Regions from separate parts of the Homo sapiens genome. Here region 2 is linked to region 1. Evidence: fine-mapped expression QTL. A gene starts in region 1. The other region holds a variant in brackets. All regions are shown on one strand. Distances are between the middles of the regions. Region 1 holds the start of LINC01124 (long intergenic non-protein coding RNA 1124). Region 2 holds the start of GAD1 (glutamate decarboxylase 1).

Evidence for each region. PIP is the estimated chance that this variant, and not a neighbour inherited with it, causes the effect.
Region 2: its variant is fine-mapped to the expression of LINC01124 in tibial artery (GTEx, PIP 0.95).

Annotation. Positions count from the first base shown.
Region 1 is chr2:170,710,268-170,719,360 of GRCh38, forward strand. It overlaps LINC01124 (long intergenic non-protein coding RNA 1124), which reads right to left and starts at 4,300. Exons shown (of 1, transcript NR_027433.1): 1 at 2,172-4,300. SP5 (Sp5 transcription factor) reads left to right here and starts at 5,070. Exons shown (of 2, transcript NM_001003845.3): 1 at 5,070-5,296; 2 at 5,992-7,811. The coding sequence starts at 5,246. The coding sequence ends at 7,137. All of the region lies in intron 5 of ERICH2-DT (ERICH2 divergent transcript), which reads right to left. LOC100130256 (a long non-coding RNA gene) reads right to left here and starts at 1,740. Exons shown (of 10, transcript NR_187629.1): 1 at 1,597-1,740. RefSeq lists a silencer at 4,387-4,436 and enhancers at 4,654-5,443, 5,444-6,231, 6,232-7,021.
Region 2 is chr2:170,809,196-170,818,288 of GRCh38, forward strand. It overlaps GAD1 (glutamate decarboxylase 1), which reads left to right and starts at 7,692. Exons shown (of 17, transcript NM_000817.3): 1 at 7,692-7,853. GAD1-AS1 (GAD1 antisense RNA 1) reads right to left here. Exons shown (of 4, transcript NR_197761.1): 2 at 8,523-8,720; 3 at 7,659-7,837; 4 at 5,428-7,290. RefSeq lists a silencer at 7,507-7,586 and enhancers at 7,674-7,843, 9,083-9,093. The variant C/G (reference allele first, on the strand shown) is at 5,199.

The sequences.
Region 1 (9,093 bases):
TCCAACCTGTCACCAAATTTTGCTCTTTTTCCCCTTTAAAATGCTGAGTCATCCTTTCACTACTACCACCAGTTCCCAATCAAAACTTTCACCATCCCACACCTAGGTAACTGCATTTGCATCTATCCTTCCAGACTCTGCAAGCCAATCCTTCTAGGGAAGAAGCTTTCAGACATGGAATTGAACTCACGTTATTTACCTGCTCAGAAGAAGTTCCTACTATAATGTATACAGCATGGGGGCAAACTCCGTGTTCTGACTTCTCTAATCTGGCCCCACCATGTCCACACCAACAGATCAAAGACCCAAAACTTCATCGTTGTTCAACTTTTCACTGAAGTGGAATTCTCTTTCTTCTACTGTCCCTTTCCCCTTCACCTTCTTCCTTTCTTTGCACTAAAATTAACTAAAGTTAAAATTCTGTAGGTCCTTAAAGTCTCCTCCAAACCCCAGCTCCTTGATAAAGCCTCCTTTGACCACCCCAGTCCTCACCAATCCTCTCTGACTTCCTACTACATTTGTGTGCTCTGTGGCACCAGTCATACGCTGATGACATTGGTACACACAATTCCACTCTACCACCCAACATCAATGAGCATTTATTGAGCATCTACTGAAGCTCACAGCATTGTGCAGGCAGGATACATATCATACAAATGCTGTTTCCTCCTCCCACCAAATGAGGGAGAATTAGATGAGATTTTTAAAAATTCCTCCTAGTTCTACAACCAGTATTGTATACTGATCCAATTTGGAAGTTTAAGTTTAAAATTAATTCAAGGATTCCAGTTGAGGAAATGGTCCCACTTCCTTGGAAAGTAAACTAGCTCGGTCACCAGGCTAGGTTACCCACGTTGTAATTGCTTGTGATTGACTACTCCACCGTATTAATGATGAAGTGCCCCCGACTTGAGATGCAGGCGTTAGGGCATCTGTGATTTGATCTGCAGCTTAAACTGGGAGACCACTCCAAATCCTCAAAGTTAACTTTGAGTATCAGATTGCAATCCCTCCCCCCACCACCATAAAAAAAAAATCTTTCAAATTGAAGAGGCAAAGTTTGAACCTTTCCTTGTTGAGAGATGAGAACAATAGCAGCTTTCTGCTCTAGCACAGCTTCAAAAGGCTGCCGAGGGACTGCTCTGAGAATTCTTGGTTGTAGATGACTGAAGAAATGCATGGGCAGCCTCCTGCGATTCAGTGCCGCATTAGCACCGGGGAAATTCTGTCCCCACCCTCCCAGAACCTTTAGTATAGCAACGATTTAACTAGGCAGATATGGGCAACTGCAAAATTGAGTCTCCTTGGCAAGGAGTGGGGAGATCCAGCCGATTAAGCAACATCTTACTGTGAAAGGCCAAAGCATTAAGAATTTGCTGAAATGATCTAAATAATATCTAGATTTTTAAAAAATCTAGCTTGAGAGGGGTGACTCTCTGGTTGGATTTATGCCAGAGGCATGCGTCCCTTCTAGCTGCAAGAAAATGCCCGAGGCGAGGTACCAAGCTTGGGCTGGAAGTAGCAACCCCTGACTTAATCCCAGAGCGCGCAGAGCTGGTCCGTCCCCTGCGCAAGTGTCACTGCGGGTTCACCTACCGGCCTCTTCCTCTCGCAGGTGGCATGCAGTCGGCGCTCGCCGCCCGCCCGCAAAGAAACGGCAATGCAAACTTCCCAGCCTGGGAACCCCGCTGCTTGGAGAGCAGCTCCGCTGTGCCAGCCGCCGCCAGGAGACTGGTATTCAACCTCCCCGCCCCCCGCCACGGTTAAAGTTTGCTCCACATTCGCAGCTCCCACCCCACCCCCATCTCCGCCCCGAGGCAGGAGGACCACATAGGAGTTCCTGGGTCCACCGTGCGCAAACACACCCACCAACAAAAGAAAGCCCATTAAATCTTCCCTCCTGTGAACTCGCGCCCCAACGGATACCTCTTTGAACTGACCCCCGCCCCCGCAGCCCCCGCGCTGTCTGGGGCGCGCCTGGCCCTCCCGGGCTTACTCTCTCCCCCACAGCTGCGCACTTTTGCAGCGCGCTCGGTCTTTGATGTCTCTTTACATTATGGCAGAGCAGCCACACGCTCTTCCCGGGCGCGGGGCTTTGTGTAATGGAACTGACATTTGGCCTTGATACCTGTATCTCTTGGTGATTACAACAAATTTCTAAAATAAATATTGTACTTTGATCTCCCAGCATTGCATTTTTAATGGACGCTCTCAACATTACTTCATTAAGAACTTTTTCCAGGAGCTCCGAGGGCCAAGGGGGTTGGGGGAGACTAAACAGCTATTCAGCAAAGCCTCTCTCCAAACTTCAGCTGGGGCCTGGGAGGACCGGAATCTGGACGGGTTTTCACAAACGGAGATGAGGCCGAGAGCAGCCAACTGCGACCACTCAAGAGAGGGCCTTCTGTACGCTCAGCACCGTCCTAAAGACCTTGCGTATATTAACTCTTAAACCTATAGCCACTCTACAAGGGGTGCACTATTGTAACTCCCATTTTACAAACCGCAAAACTGAGGTACACAGCGGCTGAGTACCTTGCTTGCCAAGGTCACCAACTAGAAAGTGGCAAGGCGGGAAAAATGTCTTCAGAGAGTTCGGACTCCGAGCTTTCAACCACCAAGCCACTAACTTTGACCCTGTTGGCCCACTGATGGTTTAACTGGCTAATGGGGGCATCTTGGAGAAAAAGCTAATTCCCATAACTATGGGGATGTGAAATGGCTTTTCTGGCCTTTTTGGGAAAGTAGCTATCAGATTCAATAAAAAGGGCTGCCTTCCATCCTGCTTAGCCCGGCCCTGCCCGCCTCCCTGGGAAAGGGGACTTCGAAGATCTCAAAGAAGCTGGAAAGGAAACCAGCGCTAAGGAACCAGATCGCTTCGAGGGTGCAAGCATGTGCAGGCGCGAGTGTGTGCCAAGGGGCTCCCTGGCCTCCGACTTGCATCCAGGGAAGAGCTCCCTCGAGTCTCACGCTTCTCCAAGACTCAAATCCTGGACGGGAGCGTGGGAAGGAGCAGGTTGGCCAGGCCTCGGATGAAACCACTAAGCTCTCTCCCCTTCTCCGCTCCCAGAGCAGCCGACCTCATCTTCAGAAGCCAGATCGGGTCGGCCAAGTTGTGTGGTCGCCGCTCGCGTTTTAGAGGGGACAACTCGTTGGGGGAGAAGGGGGCGTGCGAGTGCAGGATGTGCGAGGGACCCATTGTATTTGGGTCGCAAGCAGCCCACCCGTCTTGAGTACGATATTCTCATTCCGCAGGCGCGCCCTGGGCGTGGGAGAAGGTGGGCCCGGAGGCATCGCATCCCCGACCCCTGATGGAAGTGCGGAGGGCATCCTTATACAGTCCAGATTCCGAGTCCGTTGTAGTTAGGCTAACCTCTGACGCTGCATCGGGAGATAGGTCACCCCGTCCGTCCCGGTCGCAGTGCGGTTCCCGTGAGGAAGACGGGCAGAGAGGCCGGGCGCGAACTGATTAGGGGCTCCCCCACGGCCGGCGGCCTGGAGAGTGGAGACTGTGTCCGACGGGAGGTGGGTGGGGGAGAGGAGTAGGCCGAGCTCCGGCGGCCACTCCGCAGTGCGCTCTCGCGAGCCGGGGCCGCGAGGCCTCCAACGCGGTTCCGCACCCCTAATGCCCCAGGGCGGTGAGCACCCCGCGGTTCCCCGCCCGCCTCTTCCTCCTTCCCCGCCCGCGCGCCCGGGAGAGGCGATCCCCGCGTCCGCAGTGCCGGGGCAGGACGCGCCCTGCGCCCTGGGCCAGGAGGAGGCAGGTGGCCCTCCTCGGCAGGAGGTGAGCCGCCAGGGAGGGATGGGGGTCACCCAAGCCCCTGCAAGCGCGACCCTGCCCAGAGCAAAGCACGCCCCGCGCCTGGTGAGGAACTTTTTCTTTCCAAAGGTGGCAGGAACAAGTCTGTACTGACTTTTCTCCCGCCTTCGGGATCCTCTCTCGTATGATTTGTGGTTTGTGGGACCACAACAACCAGGCTTCCTCGACCGCGCCTTTTTTCCAGTAGCTCCTGGTCTGCCAGGCTTGCGAGAGGGCGCGCTGGCTTGGCGGGGCTCCGGGCGAGAAATCACCAGCAGCGCTGGGGCTTTCGGCCCCCCACAGCCCAGCCCGGGCCTCCTGGGTGGCCTGGGGAGAAGGGGGCGGGACAGCACAGCTTCTTCCCCTCGGGTGGGCATGACGGGTCGCCTTGGGTGTCCTGCCGAGCTCAGCTTTGAGGGTATGCGCGGCGCGGGTGTTTTTCCCAGGTCCACTCTGCAAAAGTTGTGGCCTGAGGAAAACTTCCAGGTCGCCAGCAGGAACGTCACAGGAGAGCCCCGGTCGCTCGTCAGGCGGGCGGCCCTGGAGCGTGCGCGCCACCCAACGCCGCGCTGGGCGGCCGCCCGGCCCCGCCCCAGGTCACAGCCCTGCCCTCGGCCCCACCGCGGCGGGCGGGGGACACGCGGCGGGCCGGGCGCTGTCGGTCCCACGCCCCACCGGGGATCTCGCTTGGGTCCGCTGTGTGCGCGGGCGGGTGCGTGTGCGGCGAGGGTGCAGGGTGTGCAAGTAAATACAGGGGAGAGTTACACTCTTTGCCGTCTCAAAGTCCGGCGCCTGGAAGCCGAAGGCAGATTTTTCCAGAGATAACAAAGACACTTTGTCACTTTGGGCGCTGCGTCGGTGCAAATCTTTAATTGCAAGTGTGTGTGTGTGTGTGTGTGTGTATGTTGGGGGGGGCGGGAAGAGTGTCTCGAGCAACCCAAGCGCGGGTCTCCAGGCGGCAAGGCCCCCTTTGATCAGGAAAATCCAATTATTTGTGTATATACATTTCCCACATAGTGATTACTTCATTAATTGTCCCGCCTTTATCTCCTCCCTTCCCATCCCCCCTAATAATCAGTTCTTTTATCCAGACCAACAAACACACCATAGGAGCTTTGTGGATTCAAAGGATTTGCTTTCGCTTCTGAAAGAGCCGCTATTCTTTGATGATTGGGTAGCGGCAAACTTCAAAGCCATAAATCTTCCCTCTGACTGGCTGGCGGCCCAGCAAAGTCCTTATCAAATTCTTGGAGGTGATCCTGAAGCGCTCAGACCGCGCGCGGGGCGAGCGAGCGGGGCGCGGCGAGGGGCAAGGGCGGGGAGGGCCCCGGCGCTCAGAGCAGGCGCCAGGGAGGCAGGCTGGGCGGCCCTTCGTCCTCGCCTTCGGGTGTCCATGCCTCGGCGGCGGCGTCCCGCTCCGCAGCCAGGGGCCTGCAAGCCGTAGCCATGGCCGCGGTGGCCGTCCTCCGGAACGACTCGCTGCAGGCCTTTCTCCAGGTCAGGGCCGAGCCCGGAGGGGGCGGGAGAAAGGTGGAAAGGGCCGTGTCCGGATCTCTCCTGGTACTCCGTGCACCTTGAACCTCAAAGGGAACCCCGCCGATGGGTGCAGCTGGAGCCAGGCCTAGGGGTGCCCACGCCAACTTCACACCTAATCCGGTGTGGCCTTTGCTGGAGGGACGCGTGGATCCGGGATTGTTCGGAGGTGCCCGGCTGGCCGAGAACAGGACCGGAGCTCACCCTGCTGGGCCCTCCTGCTGATTTCAGCCTGGGGCGGGCCAGGGAGGAGCGCGAAGGCAGTGAGGACAAGAGAGCTTAAAAGATGGGAGGGAGAGCGGCCGGCCGGCGGGGTTGTGGGTGTTTCCCGACTCTTACTGACCACGGAGCCGGGAGGGGCCCGTCGGATGCCTCCCCCTCCCACTTCGCGCCTGCTTCCTCTAAGGCTGGATGGCGTCTCAGTGCACCAAGTAGTTTAGCAAGAAGCGCTCGCGGGCCCCACGTTCAGGTAGCGCAGGCACCAAAAGTTTCCCTCGGCCGGTGGGTGCGTGCGTGGGGTGCGGTGGCGGGGGAGGGACGGCCGGGACGGAGGAGGGGCGGCGGTATAATAGCGGGCGTGGGGGCGGCGGGCTGGCCCGGAGTCCGCGCTTGGAGCTAACCTTTTGTCTCTTCTCCGCCCTCCCTCGCCGCCTATGCAGGACCGCACCCCCAGCGCCTCCCCGGACCTGGGCAAGCACTCGCCCCTGGCATTGCTGGCCGCCACCTGTAGCCGCATCGGCCAGCCGGGCGCGGCGGCGCCCCCGGACTTCCTGCAGGTGCCCTACGACCCCGCGCTGGGCTCACCCTCCAGGCTCTTCCACCCGTGGACCGCCGACATGCCGGCGCACTCGCCAGGCGCACTGCCGCCCCCGCATCCCAGCTTGGGGCTGACGCCGCAGAAGACGCACCTGCAGCCGTCCTTCGGGGCTGCGCACGAGCTTCCCCTTACACCCCCCGCCGACCCCTCGTACCCCTACGAGTTCTCGCCGGTCAAGATGCTGCCCTCGAGCATGGCGGCTCTGCCCGCCAGCTGCGCGCCCGCCTACGTGCCCTACGCGGCGCAGGCCGCGCTGCCGCCAGGCTACTCCAACCTGCTGCCTCCGCCGCCGCCACCGCCCCCGCCGCCCACCTGCCGCCAGTTGTCACCCAACCCGGCCCCCGACGACCTCCCGTGGTGGAGCATCCCGCAGGCGGGCGCCGGGCCGGGGGCCTCCGGGGTTCCGGGAAGCGGCCTCTCCGGCGCCTGTGCCGGGGCCCCCCACGCGCCCCGCTTCCCCGCCTCTGCGGCCGCTGCTGCTGCGGCCGCCGCCGCCCTACAAAGAGGCCTGGTGTTGGGCCCGTCGGACTTTGCGCAGTACCAGAGCCAGATCGCCGCGCTGCTGCAGACCAAGGCCCCCCTGGCGGCCACGGCCAGGAGGTGCCGCCGCTGCCGCTGTCCCAACTGCCAGGCGGCGGGCGGCGCCCCCGAGGCGGAGCCGGGGAAGAAGAAGCAGCACGTGTGCCACGTGCCGGGCTGCGGCAAGGTGTACGGGAAGACGTCGCACCTGAAGGCGCACCTGCGCTGGCACACGGGCGAGCGACCCTTCGTGTGCAACTGGCTCTTCTGCGGGAAGAGCTTCACGCGCTCGGACGAGCTGCAGCGGCACCTGCGGACTCACACGGGCGAGAAGCGCTTTGCCTGTCCCGAGTGCGGCAAGCGCTTCATGCGCAGCGACCACCTCGCGAAGCACGTCAAGACTCACCAGAATAAGAAGCTCAAAGTCGCTGAGGCCGGGGTTAAGCGGGAGGACGCGCGGGACCTGTGAGCCCTCCCGGAGGTGGACCCCCTTCCCAGCACCTCTGCGAGAGATCCGGGGACCTGTGGGCAGCTGGCGGAGGGGAGACTCAGCAGACGGACCCTCTCCGTTGCCTGCCTCCCAAAATGGAGCCAGGCTTCCAACTTCCGCTGCCTTCGGACATAGGGACCCAGTTCCCAGGAGCGGGGAGGTAGGGTTGGGGCTGGGGCATTTGGATTGTAATTGGGAGCTCTGCCGTACGCCAGGGCGGTTCCAAACTCTAAACCGTTCCCACCGTCAGGGAGACCTACAGTTTCGGGGGACCACCCTGGTCTGGCCTTGTATATAGGAAATGCTGCTGAACTGAATAGAAAGGAACTTGGGAGATTTGAAACAGTGCTCGGGTTTTCGCTAGGACCGGTTTGGGCTTTGTACAGGTTATTTAATAGCTTTGTTAAAGATAATTATAATAATTATAACATTAATAAAAATGTTGCTTTTGTCTTCAGCTCCATGCAGAGCTACAGCATGATATGTCTCTGTAAAGTGATCAGCAGTTGCAGCGTGAAAATAAATACTTTAACTCAGGGGTCACTACAGGAAGACCCCGTTGAGCCGGTCTCATTTGATCTTTTCTTCTTCTGGGTGGCTGTACTAAGCGGTCGGGTTTCCCCGGGAATTTGATGGTTCCTATAGTCTGCCTGTGTCGGAGGCTTCTTTGGTTTGGAAGGATCTGGGCAAATGTGTTGGGTTCAGGAATGGACAAAGGCAGGCAATTCCGTTTTGTGGTAAAGAGGTAGGGCAAGATTTTCCAATCACAATTTGAGTTTCTCATGCGGCCTTAGGATTCACCCGAGACTGTTTGTCTTCCAAGTTTGTTTTTACCTGACGAATTCCCTGTGGCTTTCTATTTGTTGGTACTCTCGGGACAGGTCACAACTATGCTGGTGTTAAGAGAGGTATTAGAGGCGCCAGGATCTGTTCACAGGTGAGACTTTGTGGAGAGGTACAGAGAAACGGGACCCTTGTTCAGGTTGGTCTTTGCCTGGGAAAGAACCAAGAAGATAGTTTCCCAGACGCCACTCCTGTATTTCAGTCCCGTCACGATAGCCAGCGTTGTTTTGCTTGTTTTCTTTTTAATCTTGCGATGGAAATCTTAACAAGTCTTATTTCACAGTAACCACCCAGGAATTTCTGGCTAGGCCAGGACGTTTAGTTCCATTTTGTATCTGAATTTTATTATGTTTTTAATCATTGAAGTAGTCTAAGATTTTCTCAGGGAAGAGCCAGGAATACTCATGGTTTGGAAATGTGGAAATAGGGTATTTTTTGTCTAGGTGCCTCGCCTTTCTCTAAAAGTTGAAGTTTTGAAGTTTACAAATGTTTTATCAAGTGTCTAACTCCTTGATATTTTCTAATATTTGAGTTTTTAAACCTGTAACTGAAACTTTTATCAGCAGTTAAATCTTGATTTAAGATTAGCAAAGAACAGAAAATGTTCTAAATTTTATTAACATGTTAAGCTAGCATCATTAATGCCAAATTTTAATAGAGCCGAATAATCTTTTCATGATAGTTGAAGTGTGTACAAATTGATAGGATTTCACAGTTCACAAACTGCTTTTACTTTGCCTTTTGTTTGAAGTCAAACTGAAGGATCAGTTCTTAAAAGCTTTGAGGGTTGTTCTTGAATTCTTATACGAAGTAAAACACAAATATCAACATAATTCAGATGAAAATTACTTTTATACTCCTAAGAAATGGCATTTTTATTCTGTAACTTGGGACAAGGTAGTAAATGAATATTAGATTCATAGTGGCAATATACCTTAGAATAAGAGATATTGGAACTATTTAATGACTAATTAGAATGTGAGTCTTCATGGTTCTTCACCTGGGAAGAGGAGTTTGGGTTACATTTTCAAGGGTGTGGCAGTTTGCAAGCAATAGTGATAAAGTTGCTAGGCAGTAATATTAATATACACT
Region 2 (9,093 bases), 99 kb after region 1:
AGTAAAGACAGAATGAGAAGGAACAAACCCTACAAATGCCTGGAGGAAGAGCTTTCCAAGCACAGGGTTAGTAATTACAAAGTCCCTGGCCCATTCTACTTCATGTTTATGAAACAGCAAGGAGGCCATTGTCCCTAGGGTGGAGTGAGGATGGGGCAGAGCAGTATAAGAAGAACTCAAACAGGTAACAAGGTCAGACCGTGTAGGGCTTTGTCAGTATTATAAAGACTTTGTCTTTTCCTCTGAGATGCGGAATCATTAGAGGGTTTTGAGTAGAGGAAAGCCATGATATGAGTATGACCTAGTATTTTACATTGTGTGTGTTAGGGAAGGAAACAAGGGATAGTAAGAGCAGAAATAGAGAGTGAAGTTGTTAAAGTTTGAAAGTAGCTCCACCAGAATTTACTGACAGATTGTAAGGAAGAAGTCAGTGATAACTCCAAGGTTTTGGACCAGACCAACTGGAAGGTGGAATTGCCTCTAGTTATTTACAGAGATGGAGAAAACTGTAATAGCAGCAGGTTTGGAAAAAAGTATCAGGAGTTCAATTTGGGACACCTTAAGTTTCAGATGCCTATTAGAAATCCAAGTGGATGGCCAGGTGTGGTGGCTCATGCTTGTAATCCCAGCACTTTGGGCAGCCAAGGCAGGTGGATCACCTGAGGTCAGGGGTTCGAGACCAGACTGGCCAACATAGCAAAACCCTGTCTCTACTAAAAACACAAAAATTAGCCGGGCGTGGTAGCACATGCCTGTAATCCCAGCTACGAGAGAGGCTGAGGAAGGAGAATTGCTTGAACCCAGGGGGCAGAGGTTGCAGTGAGCCGAGATCACGCCACTGCACTCCAACTGGGCGACAGAGCGAGACTCCACCTCAAAAGAAAAAAAAGAAAAAAGAAAAAAAAAAATCCAAGTGGAAAATTCAACTGGACATATCAACCTGGAATGCTGAACAGAGGTTCAGGGTAAAGATATAAATTTGGGAGTCAATAACATCTAAATTTTTTTATTTTAATTGAAATAAAAATTAAGATATTTAAAACTGCCAGATTGGATGAGATTACAGAGGGAGAGAATGAAGGTAGGAAAATTGAAACGATCAAAAGATTGAATCCCAGCAGAAATCCATAATTATGTATAAATGTCACCTCATCACAAAACTGGCTCCCTCTCTCCCTTTCCTAAGAGAGTCTGAATACTCCATCAGAAAACTTTCTCTACAAATCAAACTATCTTTGTGGACTAATAAAAACCTCTAAGGCACTAAAGAGGAGGGCTTTGAGTCCTATGTCCGGGAATGATCAGTAGCTCTACTAAAAGAAATTGGCAAAATAATACAAATATTATGCTTAGCTTATACATCCAAGGAGAACAAATTTAATTTGTTCAAAATCACTGTTGAACTAAGGGGAAGGAGCAGAAGCAGCTATTAAACATGTATTGAACACCATTAACTAGGCACACTTGAGCTTGCTAAAATGGGTTCTCTTTTTTTTGAGACTGAGTCTTGCTCTGTTGCCCAGGCTGGAGTGCAGTGGGCAATCTCAGCTCACTGCAACCTCTGCCTCCCAGGTTCAAGCAATTCTGCCTCAGCCTCCTGAGTAGCTGGGATCACAGGCGTGCGCAACAATGCCTGGCTAATTTTTTTATTTTTAGTAGAGACGGGGGTTTCACCACGTTGGCCAGGCTGATCTCGAACTCCTGACCTCAGGTGATTTGCCTGCCTCAGCCTCCCAAAGTGCTGGGAATTACAGGCGTGAGCCACCACGCCCGGCCTAAAATGGGTTCTATGAGCATCAAATAAGATAGCCCACAAGGCTGATATTAACCCCCATTTTACTTAGAAGTAAACTTGGAGCAGTCAAACAATAGCCGATAAGTAGAATCTAGATGTAAACTCAAGTCAGACTGACTTCAACATTTTTGCTTTTCTCCCAGTAAAAGCTGCCTTGAGGGCCTCAAGAGGTTCTTGAGTCCATGGTATTTACAACATGAGAAGAGTTGCCAGTGAGAAGAATCACAAAATACCTGTAATAATAAATTGTTTCAGATGAATGAAACCTCATCTGGTCTTATCTTGTACCCAAACCCTCCCATTATGGGGGTCTGGAGAGATTCTGTGATTTTTCCAAGGTCAAATGATTATTATGTGACAGAGCCAGAAGGCTTCACTGAACAAGCATAAGGCGCTGGGACTGAGAGAAGAAGAAAGCATTTCCAGCCCCCTGCGCACTAAGCATGTGGTCTGGGAAGTCCTGTAGCCTCTCTGGACTTAAGTTTCCTCATCAAGAAAACAGAAGACCTCAGGTGATAATTAACTGAGAATTCATACAATAAACACACCACACAATTTCCCTGAGACTTATTTCCTTCCTCTATGAGGATAATTATTAGTCGTGTTGCTAAAGAGAGAGAGACCGCAAGAGAGACCGAGATATATAGAGAGAGTTCTCTAATGTCCCCCACAGACCCCAGCACCACCACTGTTGGCCAGACTGGGCCCACAGTAAGCAATTCTGGGCAGCCTATGTCAGACTTTACCCTGAGTTCCACCTTGCGCCTGCGTTGGCTTTTTTTTTTTTTTTTTTTTTTTTTGAGGCAAGAGTCTCACTCTGTTGCTCAGGCTGGAGTGCAGTGGCACGATCTTGGCTCCCTGCAACCTCTGCCTCCCGACTTCACATGATTCTCGTGCCTCAGACTCCCAAGTAGCTGGGATTCCAGGTCGTGCAGCACCATAACTGGCTAATTTTTGTATGTTTAATAGAGATTGGGTTTCTCCATGTTGCCCAGGCTAGTCTCGAACTCCTGGCCTCAAGAGATCTGCCTGCCTCGGCCTCCTAAAGTGCAGGGATTACAGGCGTGAACCACCGCACACAGTCCCCGTTGCCCTTCTTGGTATAGGAGAGTGTATTCGTCAGCTATTGTCACAATATTTGATATAGTTTGGATGTTTGTCCTCTCTAATCTCGTGCTGAAATGTGACCCCCAATGTTGAAGGTGGGGCCTAATGGGAACGGCAATCAATCATGCACCCCTTCTGTTAAAGTTCCAGTTTCCTCCCCTGAGTAACTGGTCAGGATTAGGGGAAGAAACCTGGCCTGGAATAGAAGTTTAAGTTATTAGATTCGCCACAACTAAGTCAGAACTTTCCAGAACCTTTTCACAAACAACAGTCCCAGATACCTATGTTTGAAAATGGGGACTAAATATCTGTTATTTTAAGTAGTCCAAGAGCTTTTACACTAAAAGAAATGAATAAAATATTACTCTCCTCAGTCTCCCATGAATTCTGTATTTCACTAAAGCATCTCAGGTGGGAAATCCTCCTTTTTGCATCCCACCCTTTTGGGGAAGGACTGATTTCGCCTTGGTTTTTGTTGAGATCAGAAGACACAGATATACCTTTAAAGCTCCCCATCAGAATTACAATCCAGAACTGTATTTCCTTGGTTTCCAGTTTTGCAGTGAATCAGTTTCTTGCCTAATATTCACAGGTTCACTACATTTGAGACACAGCTAGGTGGGAAAAAAACAGATGCCATGCACCCCCTAGTCTTTCACCAAAGAGACGCACTACCCTAGGTGTTTCAGGTCACTTCCAGAGCACTTCTGACCATTTGAAAAGGCCCTGCTTTGTGAAATTTGGCAGGGATGAGTATGAGCCTGCATTCTTCCTTGAAGAACTGCTCCCTTGGGAGGCCTGTTGTTTCTTCTCAGAAATTGTAATCTATTGCCACCTGGTGGTCATTCTGTCTTCGAGTTTAGAATAGCAAGAATTGGACGTTTCAAGATTTGCACAAGGAGATTTGCCCAAACACAAATCACCCTGTCCTCCTTGATTCATTTATTTGTATTAGAATATTTTCATCTTCTGACTATCAAGGGGGAAGGACCATTTGCCAGTTATCCGAAGAATCCAGCTCTCTTCTTTAGAAAAAGTGGCTGTAATTCCTAGAGTCCTCTCCAGCCTTCCAGCATTCTGCTGTCACCCCTCCCACCCCCTCTCACCCTTTTAACATTTTCCTGCCTCCCAGCTGTGAGTGTTGTGTGGTCTGTTGGGATGGGGGTGTGGATTTAGCTATGATCCTTCAAAAAAGTCCAGAATAATTCAGGGAACTATCTTTAAAGTACAAAAACAGCAAATGGACCTTAGCTCCGACTTAAGCAGAATGAAAGGTTAAGTAACGCTTCCCCCAGTTCTCGTCTCGGGAGACAGACGTTTAACCGGTGAGCACTGCCATTTTTTTTTTCCTTTCTGGTCATAAATTAGACACTTAAAATAGATTTTAAGGAGCCAGCTGAAACGAACCAATACCATGGCTCTAAATTACGTTTCCTGGAGGCTAAAAATTCTAATTGCGTCAAAAAAAATTGACGTGTCCTGTCTACTCACCTTGACTGACCACGTTTTAGGCGTGAAGATCTCCCCGCAGCCCGTTTGGGCGCTCCTTCAACGCCTCACGCTCCTCCTACTCACCCGTTTTTCCCTTTGCAGAAAAGGCTTGGCCCCAAATCCGGTTGGAATATCTTTAAACAATCCCCCACCCACCCACGACGGGGAAAGGAATAAAGGGCATTGTGGGCGGAGGGTCGTGTTCCCAAGTCCCAGCGGTGGTTGACCTAAGGAAACGTTATCCTCGGCAGACAGGGTGGAGTAGCCGGGGCTGCAAGCTCGCAAATCCCTAATGCCGGAGAGAGACTGGAGGGGTCGCATATCGCCCCCTCCTTCTTCTGCCTTTGAGCGCCGCGTTCCCATTTCTTCAAAGCGCTTCAAATACAATCGAAACAGCTGGGCGGACACCACTCCCTTCCGGGCCACCCCTCATCACCGGTTCGAGTCCCCGGAGAGGATATCTTTTTTCCACCCCCATTATCCCAAGAATCCTCCCCCAGGAATGATAAAAGATTAAAGGAAGAGTGAAAGACATAAACAAAAATATAGGTTTCAAATGTTGTTTAGAGCCGAATGACAACCACGGCCACTCTTAGTTCAAATTCCTACCGGAGAGAAGAGCAGTGGGCGAAATACCTCACCCCCCAACTAGGCAAAACAAACAGCAGTTACTGTCAGGAGGGAGGAGGGCTGGGGCGAGTCTGGTGGGTTGGCCCATAGCTATTGGCGGAAGCAAACGAAACAGAGGCATGGGGACCAGAAGGACGGGCGCTGTCCTTCGTGCTGAAAGATCTATGCCCTACCT[C/G]AAAACTCAGTAATCTGGATGGAGTGGAATTCCAGGCCTTCAATTCATTACCATTCCTGCTGTGCCCAAGAGTTCGAGTTGGAGGAGATCATTGAAAATTAAATCAAATTTATGAAGTTTCTAAGTGCGCTCCTCTCCCTGCCTCACCGGAATGTCCACTCCCGGCGTGCAGGATAATATAAACCGCAGGGACAATGCAAGCTCCAAAAAATAAGTGCTTGGCACATAGTAGGGGATTAATAAATATTCGTTTAATCAATTACTGCTAATATTCAATTAAACATTCTAAACAAGGACGGACAAAAGTCTTCATTCCTCCCCTACTCACCATAAAGGAGAAAGAGAGGGATGTCCTCGAAGCTGGACGGACTCAGCTTCAGCTTGCGTTACCTAGCCTTGCAGGAGATTCCTTCTCCAACGAGATTATTTCATTGGCTAAAACGTTAGGGGTGTTTTGAACTCTGGGGTCAAAGGAGGAAGTGGTTGGAAATGTCTCAATCTCGTGCCACAGGTGAAGTAAACGAATCTTCCTTTCCAGGGAATCACGGGTTTTGGGAAAAGGTTGAGGCGAGCGGGCGTCTATGCTGGACAATGAAGAACGAGGGGCACCGGGAGATGTGTTGCCTCCTCCTTCCTGTCTCCTGCCCCGTGCGTCTTGAATGATTTAGCACTGGCACCTGGCTCCCTGATTGGTGCGAGCGTCTCGTTTAGGGAAGGCTCTAGGAGGGCCGGTGGATGGAATTCCGAGCTTCACCTGGTTGTATGCCGCCCACTTCAAGCAGCGCAGAGCAGCTGCCGGTTGAGTGGTTTGGGGGGACGTTTCCTACGTGGAGCAGACACCCCCAGCCTGTCCAGCCCCAAGCCTCAGTGCCCGGGGCTGCAGTCACCGCGCGCCCCGCCGTTTAGGATGTTTTTTGTGTCCTTAAAAAGTGCCGGGGATTTCATCGTCAGGTGGAGACAAGGCGACAAAACAGTAGTTTCTTTAGTACCAAAGGCAACGCGATTATTTCAAACCCCACAGCGAGATCCCTCTTGCTGATCAGGCCATGTCTGCCCAGGGCGGACCCTTCGATCTCCCTTATGGAACTCTCGGTAATTTATAATATTTTTGTGTGTGTTTCCATTGTGTTGTGGTGAAAGGCGATAAGGCATTCAAAGAAAACGGACGGGCCTCCGCTGAACCAGTGAGGCCCCAGACGTGCGCATAAATAACCCCTGCGTGCTGCACCACCTGGGGAGAGGGGGAGGACCACGGTAAATACCAGTAAAGGAATCACTGCCTACACGGTGTCACCCAGACACGCACAGACATCAACATTTTTGCCCTAAAGAAAAAAACTGGGGGAGAAGAAAGGGGAGAACTTAAACTAGTGACAGGGCGGTGAGGGAAGGCATGAAGAGGCAAGCCGGCGCGTAACCGTCTGGCCAGCAGCTCCAGGTGTGGGCTCCGCTCGGGCGCTGGCGGAGAGACCCGGGAGCGCAGGGCCTCTCCGTCTCTGGGCTCTTGGCGCCCTCTGGTGGGAATTTCTCTTTCAACGCATTTTTACGGCGAGGGGCTTCTCCCAACGCAGCGGTTCTTTTAACTACGCCTAAATATTGCAAAGGGAGAATCCTTAAAGCGCGTGAAATCGAAGGGGGAGCGGGCCAGGGCAAGGGGGGCTGGTCCGCCCCTTCCGGGCACCTCTGTGCTCGGGTGCCCCATGCGCGTGCAGCGGCGCTCGTGCGTGTCATCAACCTTCAAACGTGATTAATCAGGAGGCCTTCTTTTCCCATCACCAAGGGGGCCAAAGCGAGGAGCGAGCGCATAGCAAAAGGGACGCGGGGTCCTTTTCTCTGCCGGTGGCACTGGGTAGCTGTGGCCAGGTGTGGTACTTTGATGGGGCCCAGGGCTGGATGAGGAAACTGTAATTCCTCCATGGTCTAAGAGGTCTCCCCTCATTTCTGCCTCCTTTGCGGTTACAACAATCCCAGCTCCGTAGAGAGCCAACGAGGACACGACCCAAAGCGCGCTTTCGCTCAAGGAAGCGTCGCAGGGTCACAGATCTGGGGGAACCCCGGGGAAAAGCACTGAGGCAAAACCGCCGCTCGTCTCCTACAATATATGGGAGGGGGAGGGGAAATGGGAGAGGGGAAAGGAGGGGAGGGAAGAAGAAACGCTCAGAAAGGCAGAATTCTTCGTAGGAATTATCTTTTCCCTCCTCTCACCCGACAGCCTGCCTATTTCCAAAGGAAAAAAAAAAAGCGTGTTGAGTACGTTCTGGATTACTCATAAGACCTTTTTTTTTTCCTTCCGGGCGCAAAACCGTGAGCTGGATTTATAATCGCCCTATAAAGCTCCAGAGGCGGTCAGGCACCTGCAGAGGAGCCCCGCCGCTCCGCCGACTAGCTGCCCCCGCGAGCAACGGCCTCGTGATTTCCCCGCCGATCCGGTCCCCGCCTCCCCACTCTGCCCCCGCCTACCCCGGAGCCGTGCAGCCGCCTCTCCGAATCTCTCTCTTCTCCTGGCGCTCGCGTGCGAGAGGGAACTAGCGAGAACGAGGAAGCAGCTGGAGGTGACGCCGGGCAGATTACGCCTGTCAGGGCCGAGCCGAGCGGATCGCTGGGCGCTGTGCAGAGGAAAGGCGGGAGTGCCCGGCTCGCTGTCGCAGAGCCGAGGTGGGTAAGCTAGCGACCACCTGGACTTCCCAGCGCCCAACCGTGGCTTTTCAGCCAGGTCCTCTCCTCCCGCGGCTTCTCAACCAACCCCATCCCAGCGCCGGCCACCCAACCTCCCGAAATGAGTGCTTCCTGCCCGCCCTAGTCCCTGCTCTCCACGGGTGCGCTGCGCAGGGACCCCCCCCCCCCCGCCTCCCTCGTCACTCTTCTTATCCCTGCCCTCCGGATTCACGCCCCGGGGAAGCACGGAGGCTGAGGCTCTAGTTGAAGTGGGGCAAGAGCGATTTTCCCTTGAGCTTCCATGCTGCGAGCGCCTGTCCCTCCAAAGGGCGCCTGGGCAGCAGCAGCCGAAGGCGCTACTAGGAACGGTAACCTGTTACTTTTCCAGGGGCCGTAGTCGACCCGCTGCCCGAGTTGCTGTGCGACTGCGCGCGCGGGGCTAGGAGTGAGGTCGGAGGGAGGGTGTGGAGGCGATGGCCGGTGGGCCCTTCTCTGTGGGGTCCTCGATCTACCCAGATTAGCCCGCAATCTCTCTGTCCCGGGGCCTTCGGGCGCCATCGCGCCAGCGCCGAGAGTCGAGCAGGGGCGCCGCGCAAGATCTTTGTCCGCCGCCTCCTGCGCGCTGCGCGCAAGTTCGTTTCCCCGGTGACGTTCCCCATGCTTACTTACCCCACCCTCTCTGGATCTGTACCGCGAGAAATCTGGGGTCCTCAGGGGGCTAGGTAGAGGAGAAACGCTGAAACCGGACCGAAACCTCGCCCTAGGCTTAGCGATGGCTAAAAACCGGCTGGGATAAGAGGGAGGCAAGCAACATTCCGACTCGCTGCTTTCTGGCTGTCTGGAGTGCAAGGTGACTGTGGTTCTTCTCTGGCCAAGTCCGAGGGAGAACGTAAAGATATGGGCCTTTTTCCCCCTCTCACCTTGTCTCACCAAAGTCCCTAGTCCCCGGAGCAGTTAGCCTCTTTCTTTCCAGGGAATTAGCCAGACACAACAACGGGAACCAGACACCGAACCAGACATGCCCGCCCCGTGCGCCCTCCCCCCGCTGGCCCACACGCCGGCTGCTGAGTGCCCAATGGGGCTTGTAGCGGCTCGGCTGGAAAATCGCTCACTGAGCGCTCCCCTGTGCTCCTAGCCTAGTCCCCCACACCCTTGCGTCTTGTACTGGCCTTGGACCCCCACCCCGACCCCGACCCCGCCTCGTCTCGGCGCTTCACTCCAGGTCGCGCCGATGCACCGC